2 separate regions of the Homo sapiens genome follow, and region 1 is linked to region 2. The links come from fine-mapping of genetic effects on gene expression. A gene starts in region 2. The other region holds a variant in brackets. All regions are shown on one strand. Distances are between the middles of the regions.

What was found.
Region 1: its variant is fine-mapped to the expression of MBIP in whole blood (TOPMed, PIP above 0.99).

The regions. Positions count from the first base shown.
Region 1 is chr14:36,283,702-36,294,126 of GRCh38, forward strand. It overlaps LOC107984003 (a long non-coding RNA gene), which reads left to right. Exons shown (of 3, transcript XR_429356.5): 3 at 5,982-6,050. Among named protein-coding and RNA genes, the nearest start is that of MBIP, 32 kb to the right of the region's middle. The variant C/T (reference allele first, on the strand shown) is at 5,905.
Region 2 is chr14:36,314,223-36,324,647 of GRCh38, forward strand. MBIP (MAP3K12 binding inhibitory protein 1) reads right to left here and starts at 6,415. Exons shown (of 9, transcript NM_016586.3): 1 at 6,238-6,415; 2 at 2,471-2,590; 3 at 469-693; 4 at 290-386. The coding sequence starts at 6,366. RefSeq lists enhancers at 6,104-6,363, 6,764-6,813.

The DNA.
Region 1 (10,425 bases), 31 kb before region 2:
TTTCTGTGTTTCATGCTCATTTTTCTTGAGTACTTCCTCTGTGGTAGGCCCTCTGCTAAGAGCTTTGGTTTTTCATAGTCTTCCTGGCCTTCTTCCTCTAACACTTTCTTCTGAAGTGAGATGTAATGTAAATCTAGCATATTCCAAGCCTTAAATTTTTAGTTTGTTCTGACAATATGTCTGGGCAATTTTTCTAATTTTCATTTGCCGTATTTGTGTGTGTGTGTGTATGTGTGTGCGTGTGTGTGTTTTACCAGCACCTGCACACATCTTGATTTCTTAATCACTCAGGGTTGTTGCTTACCATTGTTATGTTTTCAAAGCTCTTCATGCATCAGGATTAATCCAGAGGACTTAAGCTTGGCACTGGGGGAGTTAAAACACTTGAAGAGTAGTGTAAATTCTTAATTAATACAGAAAGAAGAATCACTTATAATTTATTAAAAATATCCAATGCTGATCCAAATAATATTTTGGAGTAAATGGGTATGTAGTGAACAGTCTTCCATGGTTCCTCATTCACTGATTCTTCCTGCTGGTGTGAGGGCTGTTCAAAATAGCACTTCACTTTTTGGTTTATTTATTAAGATCCTGCACTCAACTATAAAAAATTAGCCTCCTAGAGGTGAATCACTTCCTACACTGCAAAGGAGAAATCTGCTCCTATATAGCAAAGAAGAAAACCCTGCATACATTCCTGAAACAGACAATAAAGAAAAGATCAAATACGTTTATTGCACAGCCCATTCCAAGTGTGAAATGGAGCAGATGAATGTTTAAGTAATGTGGACTGAGTGTCTGAAAGAGTGATCTTGTTACTACCCATTAGACAAGGGTAATGTCCAAGATGGGGCATGATGGGTTTTTTGGTGAACTTTTAAACTCAAAGCTCTTTAATAATTGAAAAATGGAATAGCTTGAAGAAACGTGTCTTCCCTTATGTGGAATATTATGAAAGCTAATAGCATAACTGCACTGGAAGGGACACTGAGGGAGCTTGAGTCAAGCCCTGCGTCAGGTATGCTAAAATTGCCCTGCTGTGAGTCAAAGTCTCTACTTTAATTATCTGCAAAATGCTCTGGCAGAGGGAATGTTTCTCTCCCCTCCTTCTGTTCTCATCTGGTGTACTGGCTGCTGGCTAGTTTATTAAATCAACATTTTCAAAGACTTCCCCCTTCCATCTCTAGGTAGCTAATGCCAGTTAGATTTTAAGTCTCTCAGCAAAAATTTATTCTTCAATAAACACTGCCTCTGGGACAAAGTTGTACACAAGCCTTAGTGGCCAGGAAGGAGCTAAGAGTATTGGTATGTTTTTGTCTTGCCTCTCTCTTCCTTCTCTTCCACCTTTTTCTTTGGTACCTTGCTAATAATAAGTAGAGAGGCATAAACATCCCGTCATACTTGGAAGACAAAAGCTCACACACAGCACATAGCATATCCCATGGGAAGGGCATATATTACCTTCATCACCACATTGCGCAACTAAGCAATTTTTTTGCCTGTTCAGATACAACTAGTGAAAAACATGTCAAATAAGCAGTAGTTTGGGGACTGACACCTAATCCCTACTTCTCATAACACCTCAACAATTATATAAGAAACATCGATTGTACACTCTATGTACACAACACTCTGTGGTATGTTGGATATGCAGCCTCTGTCCTCTTTACTTAAATAGATTTACTTGCTTCCTGCCTAGCTGGCCTTGTTGAGGCTGATAACCCTGGGCCAGCGCCTTCCCCACCACACTCTCCCCATCTCAGCTCAGCAGTTCAGTGCTCCATTCCCTGGAGTTTTTGGTAGGGGAGTACCCAAAATGAATGAAGTGAGTGGGGTAAAGACTCAACCACACATATTAATTCAAGATCCCTACTGGGCAGGAGGGAGGCTGCTTTAAAGGAGACAGTTCCCATGCTCTTCACATCTCAATATACGGGTGACCATTGTCTGCCCAACTAACCCTGGATTAGCCTGTGTCTTAGAAAGGGCATGCAGTCAGGGTGATGGTATCTCCCTCCAAAGAGTTTGGGGGCATAAACCTGAGTGAAGGTTTCTTTTGGGGACGGGATACCTTCTGTTCCCTATAGCAAGGAGTGTTATCCTGCCAGGCAGCCATATCTACTAAAGGCAGCTGGCTTTCAGAGGATATGATGCTGATCAAGCCTCACGCGCAAATGTCAAATACCAGGGCATGTGAGAGGGGTTGTGTAAAGTAAGTTAGTAAGTAGGCTTCTTTTCTGTAGCAGTTCATCTTTAATATTAGTACCTCTGCAAGAAGACCATCTCTTGAATTCTGCAGTTCAATGGCAATTCTGTTACGGTTGTACTTGTAATGTGCTGAAAAATTCAAAGTTGATCATCTCTATATCTCTTCATTCAAGAAGCCAGTTGCCTTTTTGCTCTTTTCAAGAGGGTAATTCCTCATGCTTTTATTTTGCCGATTAATTTTCCCCTTTGGCCTATACATTTTCCCCTTTATTCTGTTTTTACTCAAGGTTATCTCAGCCTTTCTCCTACTCATCTGCTGCCTAACTTAGCTGTTCTGTATATGTATCTGCCATTTGTTACAGAGGCAAGAACTCGGGCTTTGGAGAGGATGAGGGCAGGCTACCCAGCCCTGTCTCTTACAGAGGACTTCTCACCTTTCTGAGTCTCAAATTCCTGTCTGCAAATAGAGATAATAATACAGTAAGCTCTTTGCTTATTGTAAGGATTAAATGAGATAATGCATGAGAAGTCCTCATACACTACTCAAAATTGTTAGTTCCTGCCAGTTCTTTCTTCCTTCTTCTCCATTTTTGCCTCTTATCTATTAGTAAAAATTCACAGAATTGAATAAAATTGCAGATGTTTGCTATACAGATAATTACCTTAAAAACTATATTTAAACAGGCCATAATAAGTTATTTAAAAATGGGTTTGTGGCTTCTTCAATGCCCTTTTCTGAAATTTTTGCTTTGAGGCCTAGAGGTTAAGACCCTCTTTACAAAAATAACTTATTAACCAAATGTAATGTACCCGAGCATAGTGATCCATTCTGCACACTGTAGCCAGAAGCCAGAGTGATTTTTCTAACGTGCCACTCTGATCGGGCCATCCACCTGCTCTTCCCACCGGCTCCTTAAGCCAGTGATTCAGTGATTTGCAAGGCTTTTCAGATCTGGACCGTTCTTCACTCTCAAGGGTCCCTCTCACACTCTTCCCACCCCATCGTATGACACAGTGCTTCATGCATGACGGCTAAACAATGACAATAAGTTCAATGAATAAATGAAGACAAGGTGGTTACATTTTCTATAGCTTTGACTGAATGACAGAGTTCAACAGATGGCCTTTCTGCTGCAGAAAAAAGTTTATTAATTTTAAATATAATAATTACCTGTGTTTGGCTGGTATGAAAGAAGAGACATAATTGGGCCATTCAATCAAAATGTTTTAGATTTTTTTAAGGCAACTGTTATTTCCCCCCATAGGAATTCTCTCTTTTGTCAACTATGTGTATGGTATGTTTTTTGGAAGACATACTTCTTTACTGCAGTTCATGGCACATGGCTAGCTTTGAATGGGAATCAATTATATTAACCTATGTGTCTACGTATTAGATGTGTACCAATATTAAGAGTGGAAAGATAGAAACACCTATGTTTTCCCATGTGTTTTCATAAAAAAACTTCCAACTCCAACACAGTGGGAAAAAATATGCTGAAAAATAAAATTATTTAACCACAAATTAAATCTTGCCTTTCTGCTGGAACTGGTTACTTGGAGATGATTTTCCAGAAGAGGGAGACAGACAATACACATGATATTTAAGCAAATTATGTAGTTTGTTGGAAGAAGCTGAGTGTTACAAGGAAAAAAATATATAGAGCAGGTGAGAGGAGTCTGGAGTTGGGGTGAAGGGGAGGTGGGATGTGCCTGGATCAGGGTAGAAACCATTGTAAGGCTGCCAGATGGAGAAAAAAAGTCAAAAACAACAATAGGACACCCAGTTAAATGTGAATTTCAGATATACAGCCAATACTTTATATGTGTGTCCCATGCTAAATTTGGGGGATTTGGGGCATGTGCTAAGATGCTATTCATTGCTTATCTGAAATTCACATTTAATGGGTGCCCAGTATTTTGTCTGGCAATCCTATCCCATTGAAAGTAAGATTTCAGCTAAGATATGAGGGGATATGGAACAGTAACCCAGGAGAGCCCATCCAGGCAGTGAGAAGGCCAGTGTGGTGAGGCTCAGGAGTCAAAGGGGGCTTGTCAGACGAGGAAGGGGGGTGGTGCAGGCCAGGCAGATCATGTAGGGCCCTGTAGGCCTTTGGAAGGACTTTGTTTTTTACTCTTGAGTGAACTGAGAATCCATTGTAGGGTTTTCAGCAAAGAAGTGACGTGAACTGACTTCCGATTGTGAAGGATCATTCTGGCTGTTGTGTGAAAAATAGAGAGCCGAATGGCAAGGTCAGCAGGGGGACCACAAGGGGCTTTTGCAGTGATCCAAGGGATTAGTATGATGGCGGCTCAAGCTGGCATGGTAGCAGTGAAGCGATGAGAGAGGGTTAGATTTTGAATATATATTGAATGTAGAGACCACGGCATTTTCTGACAAAATGTATGATAGGAGTTAAAGACGGCCTCAAGGTTTTTTGACCCAAGGCCCTGGAAAGAAGGGAGTTGCCATGCACTGAGATGGGAAAGACGTGACTGGAGCAGGTCAGAGGAAAAGATCAGGAGTTCAGTCTTCAAAGTGGAGAGCTGACATGACTCCAGACATCCAAGGGGGAGATTTTGAGTGGGCCACTGGATACTGGAGTCCGGTCCAAGCAGGAGATGTAAATTTTATGTTCTCTATAATCTCCACTTAAATCAGCGTTCCCAAAGGGAAAAGACATGTCACAATTCTCTTAAGGAAATGTTTGCTCCTCCCTTCTAGCTTTAGTTAAAAAATTATCTCTTTCTTTGAAGCTGCTGCTTTGTTTAGCTTCCTGTCAACCATCCATCACTGTTGAAAGATAGGGGCTGTTTGATGCTTCATGACATTTCTTTGCTTTTCTGCTCCTTGAAACCCAGGAAAGTGGGAGAGTTGTTTTTCCTATGCTAGACTCGTCTAGTGAGATTTTTCTCAAATTTTCCTTTTCCAGCCCAATTTTAGGTACTCTTGTTCTTTTTTACTTTGACTTTTGGCTCTTTCTGAATATTTTCAGAACTTTTAAAGTAGGATTTAAAGTCACACAAGGGTCCAGGCTGAGACTTGCTGAATTCTGAGTTAATATGATATATATATCCAATAGGGAAAAGGGATAGGACCATTTGGAAAAAGAACATTTGAACCTAAAAAATCTAAGGTCCCTAAATTTCAGGGACCTAATAGCTGGGGCGAGATTGGAGAAGATAAAATCTGAAAGAAGATTTTATATCTGAATTTATTCAGAAGTGAGATTCTGATTATTTTTAGTTTTTAAAATAGCCTTGCATAGCATCAAATAATTTTAAATTACACAAGATCTTGCCAAATTGCTCCAAAAACATTGGATTAGGAATAAAGTAATTCAGTTTTAATCCTGATCTTTTAACTACTTAGCCATGAAACTTGGGTAATCTTTTAACTCTTGACATGTCCCAGTTCTCACATCTAAAAGATGAGGAATCAGCACTGTTATATACTCCTTCCCGGAGTAAGAATGAGATGTAACTCAGATTACTGTATGAGAAAGCACTCTGAAAACATAAAATATGCTACAAATTCAGTGGATTATTGCTGTATTGTCAGCAGTATCATTTTATCCAAGAAGAATTTCTTCTACTCTAATAATTAACATAAAACATAAAATTCAACTCATTGGCAAAATATAAAACAGTCAGAAACATACTTTTATTTCTTGAGGGAGAAGAGTATTCTTTCGGTAA[C/T]GGTGTTTCCTTGATGAAATGAATAAGAGTTTAACTATTGAGTGATGCCTAATTTCTGTTATATTTCCCATTTGAAGTTTCAGATTTGTAATTATTGCTGAGCGCAAGAAAACATCAGGAAGATTTGTGGTTTATGGAAGAATAGGCACCTTCCAACGTTAATCTTATCTCCCTATTGCAGGTAACTAGTATCTTCAGCTGGAAATATCAAATGCAAATCTCTTAATTTGTTTAACACAGAGATTTTAATTTCCCATTCATATCAGTGTCTGTATACTCCTGAGTTTTACACAATGCTTGTCCTCCTTTAGTTGGCTTGTACAGTATTGTTTTTTCCAGTTATAAATAGAGAACATTGGGCATGTGGGTTATCATTTTTAATTGAGCTAAATTAAGCTAATCATAAAAATTCTTCTTGCCAGTGATTAGGAAGAAACATGTGATACAATTCTGGCCAATGAGACATAAGAGGTCTATTTCTTCTGTTGTCCTATATTGTTTTATCTGGATATGGTACCCGGAAGTGTGGCAGCCATCTTGCCACCATGAAATGGCCTAGAGGCTTCAGATCAGAAACATGAGAACTTAGGTCCTCAGGGACAATGTTACAGAGCTTGTGAATTAACCAACTTGGACTTCTCTTTACATATAGTAATAAGTCCTCCCCTAGTTTAAGCCAGTTGAATAGAAGTTTTCTGTAATTTGCACACAAAAGCTGCATAATGAATACAGGTTAAACATCACAAATCCCAAAATCAGAAATCTGAAATGTTCCAAAGTCTGAAATTGACCGTCAACATGGCACCTTAAGTAGAAAATTCCACGTCTGACCTCATGTGAGGAATCTCAGTCAAAATGCAAACTTCATTTTGTGTACAAAGTTATTTAAAATATTGTACAAAATTACCTTCAGGCTATGTGTATAAGGGGTATATGAAACAGAAATGAATTTCATGTTTAGACTTGGGTCCCATCCCCAAGATATCTTACTATGTATATGCAGATATTCCAAAATCTGAAAAATTCTGAAATAGAAAAGTCTTCTGGTTCCAAGCATTTCAGATACGGGATACTCAAACTGTACACAAACCCTAATAATGTTTACCTCTCCTGCTTATTTTCATTCATGTCTCCTCTTGATCATGTTAATTATGCTTCTTGGGTGTTTCCGGAACCCCCTAATTTTCTTGAAAAGAAGCAACTGGGGTTGTTGTCAGTGCTATGGGGAAGAACACACACTAATTAAAGCTTAGGAGGGCAGAAATTCCATCAGTGTATTCCCAGCCCCAGCACAGTCCTTGTTATTCAATATATGTTGAATGAATAAATAGACTTTCTATAATTCCTTTTTTTAATCACAATAACACATTGGTTTGATAGTCTCAGCCAAGAGACGAAAGTTAACAGAATGAATGCTCTTTTAATTCCCTTGTTTTGGATTTTACCTTAGACAGGTAAATAAAGGTCAGAGGCCATGACCTTTCAAGCATCAGTCATATTTTTTCTCTAGATTTGTTAATTGGCATGAGAGTTCATCTACCCCTTGTCTTTCTATTGAGACAGAAAAATGAGATCAGGATTCTGAGAGCAGGAGAAAAAAAAAAGGCAGTGAATAGCTGCTATTTAATAGGCTGCCACATGAAGGCTGGAGTCCTTTAGCAATGCAGTGAATTTCAAAGCATAATTCCCAGGCTATTAAAGCCTAGATGTTTAAATTAACTGAGATGATATAGGAAAGAAACAGAATTGCCATAGTTAAAAATCGAATATACACTTTATGGTTGGTTATACTTTCCTATCTACTGCTAGATATTTGTATGGTTTTATCAGTAATACATAAATAACTTGTTAATTTTCATCCCTCTTTTAAAATTACTTTCTAGTAAATCTTTTAGCTAGCTTGTTTTCCATAGTTGGAAGCTATATGCTGGGATAGTTACTCACTCCAGAGGCTACCACATACAGGTCAGGATCCTGTACAAGAAATACAAGAAGTAGAAACAACTTGGGTATCTCTTATTTGGGAAATGAATAAATAAACTCTGGTTTATTCATACATTTGAGATATTTAAATAGCAATTAAAATTGGTAAAGTAGAGCTACATCAATCAGTATGGTTAAAACCCAAAACCAATGTTTAGTGAAATGTAGCAAGTTTCAAATATGTAATTAACAGAATGTGTTAAAAACAAAACAATACTAAAAATGCCTGAGAATGATGCATATGAACTTCAGGATTGTGATTCTCACTGGAGAGAGAGAGAAAGAGAGAGAGAGAGAGAAAGGGATAGATTTTATCTATGTCTGCACTTGGCCTGGTTCTTTAAAAATAAAAACTTGAAGCAAATATTAACATTTATTAAGTCTAGGTGGCAGGACACAGTTGTTTGATATATGATTTTGTGTACTTTTCTGTATGTTTGAAAAGTTTATAGTTTTTTAATGGACCCCTAATTTCACAATTCTAGAATGGCAAAAAAAATTCTATTAACTTGATAATCTAAAATTATATAAATATTTCAAACTTTTAATTTTAAGATAACTTGGAAGAAAATTCTATTTCTTAGTGATTTAAAGCAGTGTAAGACAAAGACCATCCTACAAAGGCCATTTAAAGACAAGAAAATAGTACTTGCAATAAATTGGATTTCTCAGACAGTGCTGTGGTTACCAAAAACTGCAAGTCACAAGAATAAGAACATTTGAAGCATTTTGTCATGTAAGGATGGGTTATTTTTGAAAGTGTCCCTACTTAAAAGGACTATTTTTTTAGAGCAGTTTTAGGTTCACAGCAAAACTGAGAAGGTACAGAGATTTCCCATATACGCCCTTCCCCCACACAGGCATGGACTCCCCCGTTATCAACATCCCTCATCAGAGTGGTACATGTGTTATAATTGATGGACTTATACTGACATGTCATTTTCACACAAAGTTCACACTTCACATTGATCCACTCTTGGTGTTGTACATTCTATGGGTCTAAGCAAATGTATAATGGCATGCATCTATTATGATAGTATCAGGGAGTATTTTCACTGCCCCTAAAATTTTCTGTGCTCTGCCTATTCATCTCCACCCCTCAACTTCCCTCACTCAACCCTTCGTAACTATTGACCTTTTTGCAGTCTTCATAGTTTTGCCTTTTTCAGACTATGGTATAGCTGGAATCATTTAACATGTAACCTTTTCAGCTTGGTTTCTGTCATTTAGTAATATGCATTCAAATTTCTTCCATGGCTCTTCATTGTTTGATATTACATATATAAATTTTTTTTTGAGACAGAATCTCACTCTGTTGCCCAGGCTGGAGTGTAGTGGTGTGATCTTGGCTCACTGCAGCCTCAAACTCCTGGGCTTAAGCAATCCTCCTGCCTCAGCCTCCCAAATAGCTGGGACTACACGCTTGAGCCACCATGGTTGGCTCAAAGTTTCGAGAGGTATTGCATTTCAGCAATGCAAGTACAAGAAGAAATGGAAGTAATAAGGAACTGGGACCCAAAAGAAACATATCTGAGACATGGAATAATTATTTACAAGGTGGATATCCTCTAGGTTCATTCATGGCACATATTGAGCAGTTACTTACATTCAACCAACGTTGCCCATTTTTACCTTCAACACTAAGAAAATATAAAATAAAAATTGTGCTTACTGTGTTTAAATTCTTACTAAAATTTCTAGTAAAGTTTATTTTTTAAACTATTTCCTTATAATTCAGTAAATTATTCATAAAATGACTTAAAATATATTTTCTTTATTTTTTTGAGACAGAGTTTCACTCTTGTTGTCCAGGCTGGAGTGCAGTGGCATGATCTTGGCTCACTGCAACCTCTGCCTTTCAGTTTCAAGTGCTTCTCCTGCCTCAGCCTCCCGAGTAGCTGGGATTACAGGCGCCTGCCACCAAGCCCGGCTAATTTTTTGTATTTTTAGTAGAGACGAGGTTTCATCATGTTGGTCAGGCTGGTCTCAAACTCCTGACCTCATGATCCGGCCACCTCGGCCTCCCAAAGTGCTGGCATTACAGGTGTGAGCCACTGCGCATGGCCTTAAAATGTATATTTTTTAAAGTTTTAAGATTCATTGGAACTAGATGGTAAATGGTGATGACTATTTTTCCTGGCATGAGAGTTAAGATATAATTTTTAAATCTGAAGATTTTAGTAAAGTCCAAATGCCTAACATTAAATTTTTAAAAGAGTATCAAATTTTTTAAAAAAATCTATCATATATTTAGGCAACATAAAATCACTTTCAAAGGATTATTTTTTAAAAGTAGCTCCAAAAAAATTTGAATACATGTGAGATTTCTTTCCCCGCTCCCCCTGACACTTCCTTCAGGAAACCTTGGCCACAAAGAATGTATAAAAGTGTTAGAAAATGTGGGGATTGTGAAATGTTCACATGCTTCTGCTTTTTAAAAAAGTAAACATGCAAGGCTGGCAAACTGCTTTCCCTGTGTAAAAAGTAGGGACAGTGATTCAGTGCTCAGAAGAAATGAGCTATCAGGCTGGGTGCAAT
Region 2 (10,425 bases):
CTCACTCGTACCTCACCTTCATTTCCTAAAGGAACTTTAAAATAATCTTCACCTGTGATAAACACTTTTTAATGTTAGCATTTACTTTGTGTAACCAAAATGAAAACCAGTTTGCAATATAGTCTATTATTAAGCAGAAGGAAACTCTACTGTCTTAATTACTAACTAAATCCATGAAATAAATTGAATTGTGTTCTAAAAGCTATTCATTTAAAAAATAAATAAAAGATTAGAGCAACTATAAAAATTGTGCTTAAAACCCTATGAAAATTAATTTCCAGGTAGTTACCTTGATTACAATCAATAACATTGCAAAATTCCCTGACGTTGTTTTCATTGATTTCAGCTTGCTTTCTTTCAATAAATGCAGATATTCGTCTGTCAATCTACAAACAACAAGTTTTAACAGTGTAAACATAAGATTTTTTAAAATAATACCCTCTCGCCCCCGCCAAAAAACCTTCTTACTTCTGCTTTTCCAGCCTTTATCTGAACTACTTCTGGATCAAAATGGATCTGTGTCTTTTTCACATCTCTTAAATCACTTTCTTTGTGCTTTTCTTCCTCTTGTAGGTCGCCAATGGAAAATTTGTCATTTACTTCATTTTTGTTCCCCATTTCTGTTCTTCCTATCTCTTCAACAGCAGTTGTATTCTCCTCTTTAATCGGAGACTGAAGTTTTGCTAAAAAAGGCTGAGAACAACACAATTCCATCTGCTGAGGTTCAATCTGACCAAAATTAATTACACACTTAATATATTTACATAAATTTCTGCTAAGTAAATGAAATACTTAATATCAGTTAATAAATATAAAAAGTTGGTATACCAGGACACATAGATCTGACCACATATAAGTACTCACTATTCTCTGCTATTGTAACCATTATCATTTGCTATAAATTTGTTTTTTAAAAAAGGAGAGAGGAAAAAAGAAAAGAAAAAAGAAAAGAAAACCTAAGGAAATTTAAAATTTTCTTTGAGAGAATCATTCTGTCACTCATCTTTTATTTTGTGCCAAATCAAAGCCTTCAGCCTCTGGCACCAATGCCACTTAATTAACATGTCATTCAAATGCCTCCTCAGAACACTAAGGCTTAGTATTTTTCCTCCTTAACACGAGAGCTAGTGCTCTCACTCAGCAAAGCCCTGCATTATCACTGTATCACTGGAGATTCTCCACTTGAAACTGCAGTTGGCCAATGTGAATGAGGAAGCATAGACATGAAATATATAGGTGTTAGGCTGAGTGAACACTCAGACTTTTCCTGACATGGCAAGATATCTTTTGGTCATAAAATTAAATTTTAAAAAAGAAAACGAACAAGAAAAAAAAAAGATCTATAGCTGAAAACAGGCAGAGGCCTATCACTATACTACAGGGGGAAAACCCCTGTTGTAGAATTTAAACTATATTACTCATTTACTGTTCCCCTCCCCCACTCCCCACAATGAGGTCTCATTTGAGTTCTAGAGCTCACTGCTCTGCCCTTTAAAAACAGGGTTAACTATTACTTTTAACATGAAACAGTTAAAATTTCCCACAAAGTCAATGAATGGAGGGCTGAAAATTAATGCCTATTCCATTAGTCAAAACACACTAACACTAATAACGTTCCAATTATTTTTTTCATACCTACAATTTTGCTTCCATTGTTCGCTATACTACTCTTTTGAAATCTTATAACACCTTAATCACAGTAAACTGACCAATCCAGTTTTTCCACTTATCTTTTTGACACTTCACATTTTACACTTTGATTAGAGATAAACTGCAAACTTACATCAATTATAATTGCAAAGATGTTCAATTAGAAACCAGCAAGGTCATAATACTGTTCAGTTATTAACATGAAATATTTAAAAATATAACAACACTATTATAAATACCAATTCAATATTAACTTCTAATATAAAGAATGAATTATTTCAAACTGTTAAGGAAAAGAAATGATAAAATAGTGACTGGCTACTTACTAAGATGAGACATTAATGTCATAGAAATTACTTTCTTTTTAAAAACTATGCTGAAACTGTTTAATTGCAATAGACACTCCAGGATGTGTCATGCTGGGATAATGCCCCTTCTTGAACCACTGAAAGCACTCCATGAGCCTCCAAACTCACCCAAGGCATGGAATCATTATCATAGCATGACACACACCTGCCGTGTCTTATTGCTTAATTATAACCCACCATAGATGGAACTGTATTGAATTTTCAGTGCAGGTCTAGAATTGAATAGAATTGCATTCATTCACTCATACCCACATTGGTCTTTTGGGCTATATTCCCTTAACTGTCCTGATCACTACTGAAATTAACAGATTTAGATTAAATCCGGATGTAAATAACGTTTTATTAGCAACACTATTAATATAGTGTTTAGAACTGTCAAATACTCCAACTAACTTAACCACAATCAATTTCTATTTTCAATATCGGGTTATCATTTCTAACAAGAAATTTACCTGTAAATATAAAATGTGTTGTTCAAGTGCACTAAAGAGCAATGCAGGCTGGAATGCCGAGAGGCTCTGGAGCTTGTTCCAATCGATTGTAATTTTCACCACATCATCTCTGAGGTCAAGCTTCAAAGGGGCAAACCAGCAACATCACAAAAATTACACGATTAAGCTCTACATATGGAATTGTCACAAAAATAAGATTTCTAGAGTAACGGGTCTATTTTGCTCTAAGTTATCAAGTTTTTAATAATACACTGAAATGCTCTACCCAGTTACCATTTCAAAAGGCCAAGAAAGCTACAGATTTTCATAAAAAAACAAAAACAAAATGACATGTCGTTCAAATTCTATTCTTAGGTCTGTGTAATGGGACCATTTTAGAGGTAAAACCATTCATGAAAGATGAAAAGATGAAGGCTCTTTTGATACTTCAATATATACAAACCTTTGGATGGAGTCCAATATAGGCTTGCCCTATTCAGAATCCTACTACTTCTAGCTCAGAGCCTTAAACAGAGGAAGTACAAGTGTTTTGTGAAAGTTTTAACATGCATCTTTCTCTTTAAGTATGTACACAAATACATATCAGAAATATATCATTATTCTGATGTCCTCCAAATCACATTTTTAGTTTTTTAACTTTTAACCGATTTTTAAACTAATTTAAAAGTCAAGATTATTCATACATATAAAGTGTAGGGATAAATGGCAACATGTTTATTTCAAATAAAAAACTATTATTTAGCAATGGAAGTCTGAAGCTGAAAAACAAAGACTTCTCCACCACAGTGAAATAAGTTGTCAGACTGGATGAAATGTCCAGATCTTTTGTAAATGCTAAGATGTGACAGCTCATTATATGGAAATTTCTATCAGTTGGTGATCTAATAGAATAAAATCATATCCAGAAAACTACCAAGAACCTGAATATAAGATTATTATCAAAATGAGTGAAAATTTTACAATGAGAGCGCCCATCTGCAGTCTTTTGAATGAATAAAAGTGAACCATCAAAAACTTTTCTAGGGACATGTGTTTACAGCATAGTATAAGACTATACTTCATAGTAGAATCAAGTTAACATAATTTATTCAAAATGAGTCATCTTTTCTACAAAATAAAGGTGTTACGTGAGTTCAAATACAGATTTTATGAGTCACAATTATAATAAAAAAGATGAATCACTGTACAAAGATCAAAAAGATATAAGGTTACCAATAAAAAGATAATATATTGAATAAATACTATGTGACAGAAATTTACTGCCCTTTGAAGATGAGAATGGAAGCATTTAAAAGTCCATATTAGACAAGTATAAAGAGATATGAAATTTCATGTAGGCTGCACTGGCAAAGATTAGAATATATTAAGATTGTACATTAAAGTTAATGCATTAATTTATATTACTTTAATTCCTATAAAGATTTTGTTAGACAACAACCTGTATTATGTATGGAAGTAACCCATTAATGTACTTTCATAGTCTTCAAGGAGATCTATAGTTGATTATAGAAAACTTAAGAATACAGCTTGGGGATAAAGCAGGCAAATCCTCAACCAAAGCAAAGTATCACATTTTCTAGAGAAAATAACTTATAGAAAAATAAGTCTTAATGTTTGGTTCATATTCTCATTTCAATTCAGCAGAATTACATAAGCTTCAAGTGCAATTAAGAATAATTAGTCTTTTAAGAAAACCACATAATGTCACAAATTAATTTTAAAACTGTCCTAATACATCTAACTATTCATTCAACAAATTCATTATTAGTAATATGAACTCTATGCATTTTGCCCTACAGAACTTGGAAGAGTAAACCACTCACTCGAAAATCTCTATTAGTCTGCTATTAATATAGACTATTTAAATATATATTTTCAGTAAAAACTTTACTAAATTAATACAAAAATCCAAGCTAAAAATAAATAATTGTTTAGCTTGGTAAGATGGACCATCCAGAGGCAAGCAAAAAGGTTAAAATTAGTAAATTTTGTGATCTTAAGTAAAAAATTATTTTTAACATTCAGTTTTATGTTTCCTACTGAGGAGATCTAATAATACAACGATACTTAGGGATGACACAGGATGAAGTTAGGCATGTTACAACATACATTCTAAATATCCTTTAAAGTGGTTGCAAAAGAAAATACTGATTTCTCTGGGGGCAATTTTATAAGTATGGAACTCTAATTTTCACTCTTAACACTTCTCAAAATATAGAGTATTATGAAAACAGTTTGTATTTAATTGATGAAACAATCATATTTTTGACACTTGTATAGGAGGTCCCTTCACTGTGTCATGGTAAAGTAACCAAATATTTACTGTGAACATTTTTGACAGGTGACATAAGTAAATTGTAATCACTTCTTTACTTGTACAGTACTTGAATGTTTAAAATTTTCTAATGAGTTTGAAAAATTCAGTATGCAAAATATTTCAAAAGAAATGTTTAAATCATTGCTCAGTATTTTTTAAAAATATTCCATCTTCTGTTAACAGGTGAGAATAAACTTTTTTCATCTTGACATTATAAAATAAATAAACTTAAGTTCCAACGTCGCCATAAAAAGTTCTCTAACTTTTAAACCATTTAAACGTCTTGGGTCTTAAGAATGGAATGTTAATAACAAAACACCCCAAGTCTTTAAAAAATGTTTTTGGTAAGTACTTGGCAAACAACTGAATTTAAAAGTTATATCTTTAAGCAGACTCCATTAATAACTGCGTCATTTCATAAAACCGTTTAACTTACAGTAATGTTCTTTGTAAGACACAACATACTACGATTTTTAAAAATAGTAACTTCTTAAAAGACTGATTCTCCATCTACTCAAGGCTTTAAAAATAATTTTCACAAATCAGACAAATGTTCTATTTTCATAGGAATTTACCATTATCTTTGACACAAATGCCTGCTTTGTCCACTTGCGCTAGTACCAGCCCCAAAACAAACTTTTACGGCTAGAAAATGGTCTATGTAAGATAGAAAATATTTCCTTTTAAAAGGCAGGTAAACAAGCATACTTTTAAATTGTTTCTCATTTAAAACTTGAATTTTACACCATGAAACGAAACAGTGACTTGATCGAAGAAGCCCATTTCAATTTAAAACCAATTTTACTATGACATTTCTGCAAAAGCGATTTATCAGCCAGTTAAACTAGTTAATAGTTAAATAACGACAGTTCTAACGCCAACAGCATTTTACGCTAGAAGTATTTTAAATGAATTCCTTTTACTTTTCTCCCCATTTGAAAGGATTATAGATGCGCAAAACAGCCCGAAGGAAAAAAGAAATAAACAAAACCAAGTAACTCATAAGAACAAATTACTCCCTCCCCCACCAAAAAAAGCTAATAAGCGCGCGCTTTTCTATAAATCTCAGGCCTACTGACCAACCAATTCCCATAAAGAGTAAGTTGGAGGAAAAAGGACCCTGAACGCTAAGCGCCTCCTAAACTCGCAGTGAAGCTTTTCCACATTCATTCTCTCCAAGCCTGCCTCTCTCGGAGCCGGGTTTTCACTTAGGCCAACCTCACCCACTCTTGGGGAGGACAGCTGCAAGGTAAACGACTCTGCAACCGGTACCGCCGTCCTCCTCACTCCGACCGAGGAGGCTGGGCCCGGGCTCCTTCCACACCTCGGCTTCGGGACCGCATCCCACACCTCTGCAGGCCTAGCTGCCCCCGGCCTCTGCTAGAGAAAAAGAATGGCGAGGAGGGACCGGATGGTTTCCATATTCCCAGTCCCTCAGGCCACCTCTCACCTGTCCAACCAGGGTGTGTAGGGAGCGAAAGATTTCGTAGAGCACCTCTCGGGAGAGGTTGGGTCTGCATCTTCGCTCCAGGTTCCTGTCACCGCTGCTCGGGCGATTAAGCTCCGTGGCAGCAGCCATGATATCTTCTCAGGCCGCCCCACCACCACCACCACCAAGATTTGCTCACAACCCCGCCCCCTCCCTTCCAGCTTTAGTCGCTTGGCGATGACGTAAGACACGGAGTCTGGTTTAGATCGGGCTTTGAGGCCCCACCCTCTCTATGTGAATGACAAGCACGTTACACCAATCAGTTGCAGCTGTGACATTGCGCCGAGGCTCTGAAGTGGGTAATTGCAGACCACAGCTAGGCTGGAATGCTGTGTTTGGGGTGGTCATTAGAGTCGTGGTCTCTTTAGCGTTATGAAGCCTACCTTGACTCCTAGGTGTTCATTGTGAATCTTGGTAAGAGGAGACATAGTTAAATTTTGTAGTTTGAGTCCAAAAAGTAAAAGTTGACATTTTAACATGGCGGTGTGGAGTGGGTCTGGAGGAAGCTTGCTGGTCAGGGATGGAGTGGTGCCCACACGTGTTTCTAAACATTGGAAAACTCACACGGAATTATCATGATTGGATAGAACATTTTCATCTCTTCAAGTTTGTTGTTGTTGTTTTGGAGACAGAGTCTCACTCTGTCGCCCAGACTGGAGTGCAGTGGCACTACCTCGGCTCACTGCAACCTCCGCCTCCCAGGTTCAAGCGGTTCTCCTGCCTCAGCCTCCTGAGTAACTGGGACTACAGTTGATATTCTCTGTTTTAACTGTAGAGACGCTTAACCCTAAAATTGTTTCAAAGAAATGAAACACTGTCAATATAATTCCAACAGGAATTTAACCTGGATAAATAATATCATGCAACCACAATCTTTGAAATTAGGACATAAAACCGAATTCAAATTTTACAAAGTATTATTTATCATAATAGCTTTATTATAACGATGTTTGTGGGGTTTTGTAATCTTTTAGTCAGACTCCGATATTTTTAAAAAGTGTTATCCAATTAAAGTATTACAATAATTTTTAGTGTTAAGCTTTATTCAAAAACACTTTAAGAAATCAACATCAGCTTAGAGATAAGGAAGGTGGGATTTAAAACTCGTAATTCTGTTAATAGTCTAATGCATTTACAGTAGAGAAAGCAAAGGTGGAAACTTGCACAATGTGTATTCTTTAGTTTTAGGGTAGACTAAATTAAAGGGAAGGACTAATGCATCAAGGAACTAAGATAAGGACGATGGGGATAAAAACTCCTTTGACCTGTCCCTAGGGAGTCTCTTAATTAGGCTTTCATTTCCAAAGACAAATGGGATCACCAGGCTTGACAGAATCTTGGGAAATCTTTTCTGTTCCCTTGTTGGCAGCAAGATATACAACTGACATTCCAGCCTATTTCTACAGGCAGAAAAATACTTCACAATGTCCAGTCTCAAATTGAGCAACCTTCTTATTCAAGCATGGTAATGGGGTAACTGTAAGTTTTTGTTTTGTACCAAATTAGCAATCAGTTTCAGATCATTTGTTTTCATTGAGGTGTTTCATATTTTTTCAAATATGGAGAACACTGATATGCAACACATTTGGGAATATGCTTTGTATATTTAAAAAATGTTGTCTTTAACAAGGTGCTGCTATTCCTTTCTTTGCCATCATTGATTTTGAATTTTCAAGTTTTACTTGTTCTTTTGAGCCTCTAATACAGAATTAACTGATGGCCATTTGATCTGTGTATTGCTTCTCCATGTAATTCTGTGATTTGATATCCAGACCTGCACTTGTATCTTAGTATTCTTTACTTAGGTACAGGTTGAGCATTCCTAATCTGAAAATTCAAAATCCAAAATGATCCAAAATTTGAAACTTTTTGAGTGCCAGTACCACAAGTGGAAAATTTCACACCTGATCCGACATAACAGGTCACAGTTAAAATGTAGTCAAAACTTTGTTTCATGCACAGAATTATTTAAAACATTATATAAAATTACCTTCAAGTTATGTGTATAAAGTATACATGAAACATAAATGAATTTTGTGTTTAGATTTGGGTCCCATCCCCAAGATAGCTTATTATATATATGCAAATATTCCAAAATCTAAAAAAAATCCGAAATCTGAGACACTTCTGGTCCCAAGTAGTTCAGATAAGGGATACTCAACCAGTAGTACTTAAAATTTGTTAACTCTTTTGTGCATTCTTTCTTCTTTCTAAGGACCTTTCTTACTCTTCTTGATGCCTATTACCTTCATTTTGGAAATTTTTCTCATTTTCTTATTTTATAATAGAAAATTCTATTTTAAATAGAAGAGTTTGTAGCCTGAAAAGATTTGGATTCCTTTGGGCCAACTCAAAATAGAAATTTGTAGATATTGTATGTGTGTATGTATGTATAACAAAAGTATAATATGCGCTATGAAATTTAGAAAGGGAATAAAGGGAATAATTTGCTCTTTATGGAAAACTAATTACAGTTTATAAAGTGGGTTGCTGAAAAATCTGCTGCCTGGCAGAAATGATTCAAAGTGTTGGTGTTCGCGTTAGCAACAGAGTTAGAAATACTGTCCAGCAGGCTTATGCCAAGAATCAATTGGGAGGATAGAGACTATAAATGAAATCTAGGCTATTTACCTTATCAACAAAAATGTCTTTTATGGTGAGCTTTAATGGCATAACTCTATTGAATAACCCAGTTCCCAGCAAAATACCTGAGGTATTAGAAGGGCTCAACTGATGTTTGTTGCATATATGATAATACAGATTTTATTTCAATGCAGAAAAAGTAAAATAAATGGTATTTGTCGTCCCTGTCTCCCCATCACCTGCTGCATAAGTCCAAGTTCTTTAGAATGACATGAAGGCTCTTATGATGTGGCCTTTGCCTAAATTTCCAGCCTCATTTTCTGCCACAAACCATCTGGTGCTTAGTGCTTCTGAAACTGCTTTTATGTCTTCAACACTTTACTATTTCTTGCCTCCATGCTTTGATTTTTACCCAGTGCCTGTTGTCTGCTTGAGAAACTCCTTTTCCATTTTCAAACTCCAGTTAGAAAATCTTTGGGGAATCCCCCCTCATAAAGAGCTTATTTTCTCCTCTGCTAAACTACTCCTACAACTTGTATATACTTCTATTATTGTAGTTATCACAGTGATACTTGAATTTATTTGACTATATCTGTCTCCTTATTGAACTATAAGCATTTATATGTTGGTGTACATAAGGCTTAGCATAGTTTCTGGCACAGAGTTAATTGCTCAGTATATGCCTGTTGAGCTGAATTTATTTGCCTTCATAAGTGAACAGATTTATAAAATGGAAAAAAGTAAACAAGTGCCTATTGTTGAAGGAAAATTGTAACATATAGACTGCTATAAACAATTTATTTTAAATAACGAAACAAGTCTGTTTATTCTCTTTTGTGGCAGCAAATTCAAAGTGTTCTAAGTTTTCTTAAGGGAGTAAATATAGCTAGCCTTCATAACCATTCTCAATAATTTTACACATACAAATTAATTGTACCTACTATATACCAGGCACTCTAATTGACATTGAGCTACAAAGATGAATCAGACAAGGACTGTTCCTCAAAGAGCTCCCGTTCTAGTGGGATAGGTAGATATATAAACAAACAACTTCATATAATGTGACAATGGCCATATTAGAGGTATGTATAAAGTAATGCAGCCAATTAGTTCCTTTGGGGAGGGGGTTGGGTCCAGAATCAGGAAAAGCTATAAACACTTAAAGTAAAATCTGAATTGATATTGATAAAAATATGAATTTGATATCAAAATATGAATTGATAAATAAGAATTCTCAAGGAATTTATAGAAAACATGAACAGCAACTTGAACATGCTTAATATGTTTAGGGAGGATACATTAAATAGAGAAGTATGGCTAAGCAAGCATTTCCTAAAGTGTATTTTATGGAATGCTAGTCTATAATGTGCTAATTTTAGCAAAACAGTTCATGATCAAGTAAATTGGGATAATAATTGGCAAATTGTATTGCCATTTCATGCAATGGCTCACAACATTACTTCCTATTAGCAAGGAGTTTAGCAGTGCAGTCAAGCCCAAGGACATAACTAAACCAATCTCAAACTCCCATTTTTGAAGATTTACTTACTGGTATAAATAAATCTC